Homo sapiens: one gene and its partners. The protein of the gene in region 2 interacts with the protein of the main gene of each other region in a biochemical or structural test. Each region holds a gene or a part of one and is shown on either strand. Other genes may lie near its edges. The genes, in order: NF1, LIMK2 and ROCK1.

Region 1 (3,752 bases), on a different chromosome or scaffold from region 2:
CATTCAGGCAGAGACTGGCAGAAATAAAGGCCAAGAAGTGGGAAGAAGCATGATACACACAGAAGAGACTGAGGTGACCTGCCTGGAACATAGGTGCATGCAGAGGCATAATGGGAAAGAGTTTGGTAAATCAAGTGGGGTCAGCTCCCAATAGACTGCTGGGTCACAGAGACATGCTGTTAGAATATTAAAATCATCGAATATTTAAACTTGAAAGAATCTAAAAGATTTTCTAGCCATTTCTTTTTCAACAGATGAGGAAATCAAGGATCTATAGGAAAGCTAATGGCTAGGATAGGGACAAAGGCACTGAATAGCAGAACAAAACTAAGACCCCCGCTAAGGAACTCCAATTCAGTAGAAAAGTATTGTGTCTTGGGAACTGGAAGAGATTGGTTTCCGGGGGGAGTGGAACATCACAGTGGCATTACAACTAAGCAATGACCACTATGTTTTGCCAGAAGTAATCACTTTCAAGAAAACAGCAATCAAGCAGAGGCAGGAGCTACTTTTCAGAGTTATAAAGGAAATGGGTGGATAAACAGTAGAGGCGGTGAGTATCTGGCAACAACAACAACAAAAAAGACTGGTCCACAGAGAGAGAGCTGCAGGACCAAGTAAACGTCTGATTTCCAAGAGAAAGGAAATCTTAGCCTGAAAAGTGAAAAGAAAGCAGCCAACATAAAGACTAAATTAGTTCCCAGACAGATAAGGTGGAAAGTGTAAGGGAGTGCAGAGAACTGAGGAACAGCTGGAAGAAATCTTTCTAAAGGATGAATTCCGGGCCGGGCACGGTGGCTCATGCCTGTAATCCCAGCACTTTGGGAAGTCAAGGCAGGTGGATCACGACATCAAGAAATTCAGACCCATCCTGGCTAGCACGGTGAAACCCTGTCTCTACTAAAAATACAAAATTAGCTGGGCGTGGTGGCATGCGCCTGTAGTCCCAGCTACTTGGGAGGCTGAGGCAGGAGAATCGCTTGAACCCAGGAGGCAGACGTTGCAGTGAGCTGAGATCGCGCCACTGCACTCCAGCCTGGGCGACAGAGTGAGACTCCATCTCAAAATAAATAAATAAATAAAAATTTAAAATAACAATAATAATAAATTAAAAAATTCCGAAGCAAAGAATAAGCATTATTGTGCTCGATTCAGCACCACATATACTAAAATTGGAAGAATAAGCATTATTTCTCACTCACCATAAAGAATTCGTCACCATAAAAGAGTACTCATTTTCAACTACTATAAGGCCTTATAAAAATTACACACCAGGCTTGAAGAATGAGGCTAGGAGATATTTTTTAAATCCAAAAAGCTTCAGTTTTGCAAATCTATTTGTCTAATCAGTATGTGGTTTGTAATTTCGAAGATACTTGCCAATCATTTTATACTGTGAATCACTCACCGCATATTCAACGTACATTCAGATGAACACTCAATGTATGAGAACAACAAATATGCTACTACAACCTCTAAAATCAGAGTTTATTCCATAACATATTCTTTAAATTGGGTTTTTTGGCTTTTATGTACTACTTTTGCTTGATCAGATATGGAAAATATAATTGCTTTAAATGAACATATTTACAACAAATCATTTTGGGATGGAGTTCTTTTTAATTCTTTTTTTTTTTTTTTTAGTTCAAATATCCATAGTTTTCCCATACTTCCCTTCAGAAATAAAGCTCTACAGGAACCAGTGGGGCATACAGAACTAGGGGAGATACACAGAAGGTTCTAATTTGCTTAGAAACTGGGTTAATGAACCACAATTAAAAGCTACACATGGCCGGGCGTGGTGGCTCACGCCTGTAATCCCAGCACTTTGGGAGGCCAAGGCAGGTGGATCACCTGAAGCCAGGAGTTGGAGACCAGCCTGGCCAACACGGTGAAACCCCCGTCTCTACTAAAAATACAAAAATTAGGCAGGCGTGGTGGTGGGCGCCTGTAATCCCAGCTACTTGGGAGGCTGAGGCAGGAGAATGGCTTGAACCCAGGAGGCAGAGGTTGCAGTATGCTGAGATCTCCCCATTGCACTCCAGCCTAGGAGACAAGAGCGAAACTCTGTCTCAAAAAAAAAAAAAAAAAAGCTACACACCTACAATTTGTCAGTTTCAATTAGAAACTTGCTATTTGGCACCACGAAGGCAGGTTAAGGAGAGATGTAAGATTTAACTGATAACATTCAGCTTTCTGGCTGTCCACCTGTGCAACTGTCATTTCCCTAACCAAGGAGGTGATTACTTCTAAAATTGGTAATACTCATTCAACTTAGACCCTAAATACTAGGTTTAGCTGCAATATTATCAGGTTAAGGAATTTTATATTACCCACAAGAATGTGAGCTCAAAATGTCAATATGGCACACATCCACTTCTTTTAACTGAGTCTACTGCACTAAGTTGCTAAGCGATACCCATCAGAGTGCAATATGTCTGTAATCAGCAGTGGCTAGAAATGCATTTCTGCTTTAATCACACCGAATATTAGAAATCCAACCAAAACAGCAATCATAAACAGAGTTGCCATCTTTAGACATGCACATGCTCCCTGGGGGCGTTAAGTGGTCCAACAGGCAAACTCTTAGCTGTAATAAGAAGGAAAGCTTAACTCCCCCTGGGCCCAGTAAAGCAAAGTACAGATAATATAATCCAAAATTCAAAAGTTTTATAAACAGTTGAAACTATTAAGATTCTTTTTTTTTTTTTTTTTTTCTGAGATGGAGTCTCGCTCTGTCACCCAGGCTGGAGTGCAGTGGCGCAATCTCGGCTCACCGCAAGCTCCACCTCCCAGGTTCAGGCCATTCTCCTGCCTCAGCCTCCCAAGTAGCTGGGACTACAGGCACCCACCACCACACCCAGCTAATTTTTGTATTTTTAGTAGAGATGGGGTTTCACTGTGTTAGCCAGGATGGTCTCGATCTCCTGACCTCATGATCGGCCCGCCTCGGCCTCCCAAAGTGCTGGGATCACAGGCGTGAGCCGCCGCGCCCGGCCAACTCTTAAGATTCTTATACAACTATCTCTCAGTACATGCAGGGCTTTTTCTCCCCTCAATAAAAATGTAAGCGATGGCTCACGCCTGTAATCTCAGCACTCTACTAAAAATAACAAATGTTATCCAGGAGTGGTGGCAGGCGCCTGTAATCCCAGCCACTTGGGAGGCTGAGGCAGGAGAATCACTTGAACCCAGGAGGCAGAGGTTGCAGTAAGCCAAGGTCGCATCATTGCACTCCAGCCTAGGCAAGAATCATGAAACTCCGTCTCAAAAATAAAAAAAATAAAATAAAGTCTTCTAAATATATTTAATGGATTAGAACAAATTTTATGGGATACTTAGGAAAAGTATCTCCCTGATGGTCAAGCATTCACTACTTTTCATACTGAAGCTCTTATTAGATCTATGTCACTTAACCTTCCCATGCCTCAGTTTTCTGACTAAAAGACATTTTCAACCGTAAGGTGAACTCTAATTTGAATTAAACATTTATCACTTATATAATAAATTAATATATTAATTTATTTTATATATATACTATATATAATATATATAAGTACCTTATGTTAAACACTGAAAACCCTTACATTTTTGTATCTCAAGGTCAGAGACTTTAACTTTCTAAGAGAAAAATGTGAGGAATAGGCCAGGCACAGTGGCTCATGCCTGTAATCCCAGCACTTCGGGAGGCCGAGCAGGGGGTGGGGGGCAGATCACCTGAGGTCAGGAGTTCAAGACCAGCCTGACCAACA
Region 2 (3,752 bases):
AGCGAGCTATGGATCTAACATGTACATCTTACACAGTGCTAATAGAATGTTGGGTTTCTTCCCCAATATTTTATTTTGAAAAAAAATTCAAATATATAGAAAAGTTGAAAATGTAGTTCAAAGAACACCTACATACCTTTCACATAGATTCATGATTTGTTAATGTTATGCCACTTTGTATATATCTCTCTCCCTCTATCTGTATACTTTTATTTATTTATTTTTGCTGAACTATTTCAGAGTAACTTAAAGGCATCTTGATTTTACCCTTGAACAGTTCAATATGTTTCTGCTAAGAATTCTCCTATATAAGTCAGATATCATTACATCTAAGAAAATTCACGGCAATTTTACAATATAATATTATAGTCCAAATCCATATTTCCTCAGTTGTTCCAAAAAATGTTCATGGCTGTTTCCTTTTTTAATCTAAATTTGAATCCAAGTTTGAGGCATTGTATTTGGTTGCTGTGTCTCTAGGGTTTTTAAAATCTGTGCCTTTTCTTCTCCCCATGACTTTTTAGAAGAGTCAAGACCGGTTATTCTTATAGAATAACCCACATTCTAGATTTGCCTGATTAGTTTTTTTATACTTAACGTATTTTTGGCAAGAACATTACATTGGTAACGCTGTTGGTGATGGGTCAGTTTTGAAGAGTGGAGATGATTAAACTGCTTTTGTTCATTGAAGTATCTGTCAAGACCAGAGATCCTTAACTGGTGCCATAAATAGGTTTCAGAGAATCCTTTATATATACACCCTGTCCCCCACCTAAATTATATACACATCTTCTTTATATATTCATTTTTCTAGGGGAGGCTTCTTGGCTTTTATCAAATTCTCAGAGGGCCCCAAGACCCAAAGAGGTTATGAAACACTAGTCTGTCCACTGAGGCAGGCAACACAGAGCTGGTTTCTGGGGCCTTGTTCAGTCTGAACCAGCTTCCCTTGGGGAGATAGCACAAGGCTGTAACTTTGCCCCATCTTGGCTTTGGATCAAAGAGGACTGTCCATTTTGTTGTCATACCTAGGAACCAGGGACAGCTTATGTGGCCTGGTTCCAGGGATCCAGGAGAATTTCAGTTCTTGTCTTGCCTTTCAGGTGTTCAGAATGCCAGGATTCCCTCACCAACTGGTACTATGAGAAGGATGGGAAGCTCTACTGCCCCAAGGACTACTGGGGGAAGTTTGGGGAGTTCTGTCATGGGTGCTCCCTGCTGATGACAGGGCCTTTTATGGTGAGTGAATCCCTTCATATCTGCCCCTCTTGGTCTTCAGAGTCCATTGACAGTGCTTCCAGTTCCCTGTGGCCTGTTAATCTTTTAGTCTTTCCATCAGCCAGGGCATCTCCCTTTATTTATTCATTCATTCAACTAGCAGGTATCAATTGAGCACCTACTAAGTGAAAGGTAAGATCCTTCCCTCAAAGACTTAATAGTTGAACGTTGGGAGTGGGAGGAGAGGCAGGCAGAGAGGAGACACAATATAGTTGGATAAGGACCTCCAAGGAGAGTGTTACAGGCTGAGAGGAGGATATACTTAGGTTGTCTTTAGGGAATCAGAAAAGGAGACTCTGGAATAGGCTGGCAGAGAGAGGGGCTACCTCCTATACCTGCTCTGGACAAACGACTTTAAGCATAGTGACAGACTTGCCAACCCTGTATTGGAAGAACTGATCTTTTTTAGTGGGGATGATTACTTCTGGGGATTTCTTCTCATAACTGAGACCAAAACAGTTTTGTGCAGTCTCAGAAATGACAGGAGGTACCAATCTGACACTTCCTTTGGAAGCTCTAGGGCAGAGAGTGAAAGAGTGGATTTTGACGGGGGCCTTGCTTGGAGGTCATTCACCCACCCCTGTCCTCACTCCAGCAACAGTGATAACTCACTTCCTTCCTCCCTTTGTACACCCTTCTCCCCACCTGCTCACAGGTGGCTGGGGAGTTCAAGTACCACCCAGAGTGCTTTGCCTGTATGAGCTGCAAGGTGATCATTGAGGATGGGGATGCATATGCACTGGTGCAGCATGCCACCCTCTACTGGTAAGATAGTGGTCCTTTGTCTATCCTCTCCCATATAAGAGTGGCTGGCGGGGAGGGACAGTGGCAGGGTGAGTTGGGCAGAAGGAGTGTTAGGGTAGTCAGAGCATTGGATTCTTACCACAGCAGTGCTCTTAACCAGCTCTTTAACTTGTAAGCAGAATGATTTACACATGTCTCTACCCTTTTTCCTTACCAACCTTGAAAATGTCTTCACTCTGCCCTGCAATCCTCCCAGTGGGAGGCACTCTTCAAGGACGATCCCAGAACATTAAAGTCAAAGACCCCTTAGAGCTCACCCTGTCCAACCACCTTGGTTGATAAAAGAAGTCAGCCTGGGGCCCATGGAATAGAATAGTACAAGGGCAAGGTTCTCATTGTGAGTCAAAGGTAGAGTGAAGAGAACCCAGACCATCTCACCCCAACCCAGGCCAGTGTTTTTCCAAATATACCACTTGCTGCAGATCTAGCTCAGCACCCCCAGTCCCAGCCCACCCTGAGAACCCAGGCTCCTCATTCTGAGCAGCCAGCTAGAATCATGACAAAGAGGGTGGTAGTGAGACTATGGGTACTGTTGCTTAAAGCCACATGGTGCAGTGGTTGCTGGGGGGCTTCTGTGTGGGACTCTAGCATCTTATTCCCCCCTGTGCCCTCTCCCCAGTGGGAAGTGCCACAATGAGGTGGTGCTGGCACCCATGTTTGAGAGACTCTCCACAGAGTCTGTTCAGGAGCAGCTGCCCTACTCTGTCACGCTCATCTCCATGCCGGCCACCACTGAAGGCAGGCGGGGCTTCTCCGTGTCCGTGGAGAGTGCCTGCTCCAACTACGCCACCACTGTGCAAGTGAAAGAGTAAGTATTTTGAGAACCCTTCAGCAGGGGTTCTTGAGCAGAGTCTGTAAATGGGCCTCAGAGGGCTTAGACCTCCAAAGTCTCATGCAGAACTCCCTTTATTCTCATCTCATATCTTTCTCCTGGACCCCACTATGCTGTAACCGTACCTGGGCCTTGGCACTTACTGTTCTCTCTGCCCAGGCTACTTCCTACCCGATACTTAAGGCAAGAATCACTCACCTTTCAGGTGTCAGGTTTCAGGTCATGTTTGCTCTTTGAAATCATCTGGCTTGATTATGTGTATTAGTTGTTTATCTTCTATCCCCTCCACTAGAATGTAAATTCCAGAAGAAACTTGCTGTCTTATTCAGTGCTGCATGCCCAGGGCTTGGAAGAGTACCTGGCATATAGTAGGAGTTGATTGATTATTATTTTGTCAGTCGAGAGAATGAATGGAGAAAATGTGGTCCATGGCCCAAAAGAAGTTAAGACCCTATCCTAGATTCAGGCCAGAGACCAGATGGAGAAAGAGTCTGTGTCTATCTAATACCAGTAATGTCGTACCTCTGGCCGCTTACCATGTAAATATTGATTGTGTATCTACCATGTGTTGGACACTAGGCTAGTGCTTGCACAGCAGGTGAAAGATACTAGAGTTTGGGAAGTCAGGAGGAGCTAAGGTCTGTTCTACAACCTTATTAGATGAAGAGGAGAGGGAATTGTGTTCAGGGCAGAGGGAGAAGCATTTCTCCAAAAGTAGGAGTCTTAATCATGTCTGATGTAGGTTGAGTGTGGCCAGAAAAGGGGCTGTTAAGTATAGAGGGCCTGGATTATGAAAATCCAGCAGATCCATTGAGAGTTTAAGCAGCAAGGTGTTGTG
Region 3 (3,752 bases), on a different chromosome or scaffold from region 2:
CTATATTATTCAATTCTTACAACAATCTAGTACTTTTATCCCCTCTTATTTTTCTGAAGATGAAACAGCATTGAGAGGTTAAAATAACTCCCTAAAATATTTCAGCAAATACATGTCAGAGCCTAGATTTCAATCCAAGTTTAGGCCCTATACAAAGATTTGCTGAATGAATAAAAATGAATTAGGAGAGTAACTTGTTTTTTTAAAAGAAGTTCCTGCAACATACTAACATCCAAAAAAGTCTGGTCCAAACTAACCAGATATGCAATTGATACTAATAACACCTATTAACTCACAAACTAGGAACACTGGCAGAGATACAACTTTAAGGCTCAAAGATTTAATGACCTCAGGTCTTTTCATTCCAAGAGTAATATACCCCCAAAACAGATCAATTCAACTGGCAAGGCATACAGGGGATTAGACAGCAATAATCCAGATTCGAAAATGCTACCCAAAATCTGCTGTAATAACCCAATGTGTGGACTAACACTGTCAAAAAAGTTCACAACAAAAATTTCAGTTTAGCGACAGGGACAATAGTGGAATTAATGACAAAACAGATAAGTTTATGGGAGGAAGCTTGTTTTGGAATATGAGGGATTTGAGACTAACATGACATCCAAGTAGAAATGCTTACAAGGCAGTCAGATATTTAAGGTTTGAAACAAAAGACTAAAAATAAAGATTTGGGTATCATGTACATAGAGATAATAATAATTGAAGCTGTAAGAATGGATGAATTCTTCAAGAGAGTGAAGACAAAGATAAGTATGATAGGCCAAAGATTGAGGAAAAGAAAAAAAGAAGAATGAAAAGATGGGAAAGCACTAGGTCAAGAGAGCCCAGGAAGATAATTTAAAGGAAGAAAAACTCAAAGACTAACACCAGAAATTTCATTTACATTTATCTTCCACATTCTGAAAAACTCCCTAATAAGAAATAGTAGTGACAAACAGCACAGTGTTAGAACTCAACAGGCACTATTTGACTAATACTGGTTCCCTTCTGTCTCCTCCGCTCACCCGTTGCTACACCTCCACCAGCCAGAAGAGAAGTGGAAAGGTCATGTTCTTAACAGGCATCATGAAGCGATGTGCCAATAAATATGCTACAAGCAAGATATTTTCATGAAAAGTATGTCAAACTTCAAAACAAATGTATCTATAACCCTCCCAACCATTTTTGTTTTTCCTTTTTTTTGAGACAAGTTCTCACTGTGTCGTCCAGGCTGGAGTGCAGTGGCACAATCTCGGCTCACTGCAACCTCCCCGTCCTAGGCTCAAGCAATTCTCTGGCCTCAGCCCTCCAGGAGCGAGCCACTGCACCCGGCCTTGTTTTTCCTATTTAATTTACAAATCATAAGCATTTTTTCCTCTGCAAAGATTAAATAGACTTAACTAAACTCCATCCCTTATTCTGTTTTCAAAGGTACTCAAAATCACTGAGAAATTATTACAGGCCCTAGACAAAATAATTAGAAGATAAGGAAGTCCGGAAAAGAGAAATAGCTCCCGATAATCCTTATAAACTGTAACATGGACAGTAAGAAAGACAACCATTAGGACACTGGAAAGAATCTGACCTACAGAAAACCAAAGTTGACTAATTTGAATGCTCTAGGAAACAAGTGAATGGTTATCATAATGTATCTTAGTATTTGCAGACTATTTTAGCATTTATACATGATATGAAGATTGAACTTACTTAGTTCTTGAAAAAAATTACAGGTGTTCGAGAAAAGATTGGATAGCCACTTATCAGAGTTCTTCCAGCTACATTATTCTAAACTACTGCAGGTTGAGTATCCCTTGTTTAAAATGCTTGGAACTAGAAGTGTTTCAGACTGCAGACTTTTTCAGATTTTAAAATATTTGCATATACATAAGATACCCTGGGGATGGGGACCAAGTCTAAATAAGAAATTCATTTACGTCTCATACATACCTTATACACAACAACCTGAAGGTTATTTTTTGCAATATTTTAATAATTTTGTGCATGAAACAAAGTTCTGACTGCATTTTGACTGCAACCCATCTCACAAGGTCAGGTGGATTTTCCACTTATGGCGTCATGTCAGCACTCAAAAAGTTTCAGATTTTGAGCACTTCAAATTTCAGATTACGGATGCTATTCATCATTAGTGTCTCAACAAAAAAGCTGTTTAGTAGGTAAGGTAGTTTAAAAGGACATACACCAGCAAATTTCTGAAACCAAAAGATTTGGAAGTTTCCATTTCTAAGCATGAATCTAGTAAAGGAGGTAGAGAAGAAACAATTTGAAAACCTTATTTTTGGGATTACAAAAACAACTCTAGAACTAAAGGACTGCACGTGGCACATAATACACACTAATAAGTAAGTATCAGTTACACAAATCAACAAAAGTCAAAATAACAGAAAAAGGCAACCAATGTAAAAGGAGTTTTGTTCCTATAATACATGAGAGGTCCAAAGTCCAGATAGGGAAGAACAAGAACAGACTCACTGAAAAAGCTGAAGTCACCTGATAGGTCACCCTGAATGACACAATGAATGAATGAACGAACGAATGCTCAATGTTAAACATAAAACATCATGCGAAGAAAATTCATGCTAGATACTACAAACCCAGAAAAAGGATTTTTTGTCTCTAAAGGAAATTCAGTCTTGGGCCAGGCACGGTGGCTCACGCCTGTAATCCCAGTACTTCGGGAGGCCAAGGCAGGCGGATTCCTTGGGGTAAGGAGTACAAGACCAGCCTGGCCAACATGGTGAAACCCCATCTCTACTAAAACTACAAAAATTAGCCAGGCGTGGTAGTGCACGCGTGTAATCCCAACTACTCGTGGGGGCTGAGGCAGGAGAATCACTCGAACCCAGGAGTCGGAGGTTGCAGTGAGCCAAGATCGCGCCACTGCACTCCAGCCTGGGCAACAGAGTGAGATTCCATCTCAGAAAAAAAAAAAGGAAAATTCAGTCTTTACCAAGTTCAGATTGACGGGGTAATAAAATTTCAGTAACAGCTATCAATAAACAGCTGTGGAACTAAACAGAAAAAGAGGACAAGATTATAAGATTTGAAGGGGAAAAAACAACCAAATCTGTCTGTTGACTATTCTCTTTAACAAAATGTTGTTTTAGAAGTGTTGGGCTCCATGATACCTGGCTGTCCTAACTCTGGAGGCCTTGATGGCTTACCTCCTCCACTCTTCCTCTTTGTTCAACCTTCATCTTTCACCCTCATTTTTCCCTCCATTGTTTCTCCCTTTACCATTATATCAACTTGCACCTTTGTGCAAATGACTTCTAAATCATTATCTGTAATTATGAGCTCAGTTCTGTATCTCCAACAGTCTACAGGTCATTTTCTCATGATTGCTCCACTATCCCCTCAAACACAACGAATCTAAAATTGAATTTATCTGTAGGCCTATTCTTCACAAGCAATTTCCAAACCTGACTTTGCTATTTTTACCATTCTCCCTATAATCCAGGCTCAACCTCTTTAGAGTCATCTGACTATTGCCTCTCTCTTTGGTTCCCCATCTTTTCCCTGCCAATAAAGTTCCATTAATTCTTCTTTTCTCATTCTCATGCCCCAATTTTGGGCTTCAATCATTTCTGGACTATTACAATAATAACAATTTTAAAAAACTGTCCAATCTCACTGTCTCTCCAATCTTTTCCCATGCTAACCCATCTTCCACACACCAGATTCATCTTCTTCATTCATCCTAGCACGGTCTTATTTATAAATATTTAATAGCC

The links.
Region 1: the proteins of LIMK2 (region 2) and NF1 form a complex in vitro, tested with the Homo sapiens proteins (one study listed by BioGRID).
Region 3: of the proteins of LIMK2 (region 2) and ROCK1, one has a biochemical effect on the other in vitro, tested with the Homo sapiens proteins (2 studies listed by BioGRID).

Annotation. Positions count from the first base shown.
Region 1 is NC_000017.11:31,097,899-31,101,650, reverse strand, and holds part of NF1 (neurofibromin), read right to left. Parts: intron 1-3,752. UniProt on the Homo sapiens protein: Stimulates the GTPase activity of Ras. NF1 shows greater affinity for Ras GAP, but lower specific activity. May be a regulator of Ras activity.
Region 2 is NC_000022.11:31,257,188-31,260,939, forward strand, and holds part of LIMK2 (LIM domain kinase 2), read left to right. Parts: intron 1-1,103; coding exon 1,104-1,239; intron 1,240-1,933; coding exon 1,934-2,043; intron 2,044-2,701; coding exon 2,702-2,890; intron 2,891-3,752. UniProt on the Homo sapiens protein: Serine/threonine-protein kinase that plays an essential role in the regulation of actin filament dynamics. Acts downstream of several Rho family GTPase signal transduction pathways.
Region 3 is NC_000018.10:21,105,118-21,108,869, forward strand, and holds part of ROCK1 (rho-associated protein kinase 1), read right to left. Parts: intron 1-3,752. UniProt on the Homo sapiens protein: Protein kinase which is a key regulator of the actin cytoskeleton and cell polarity.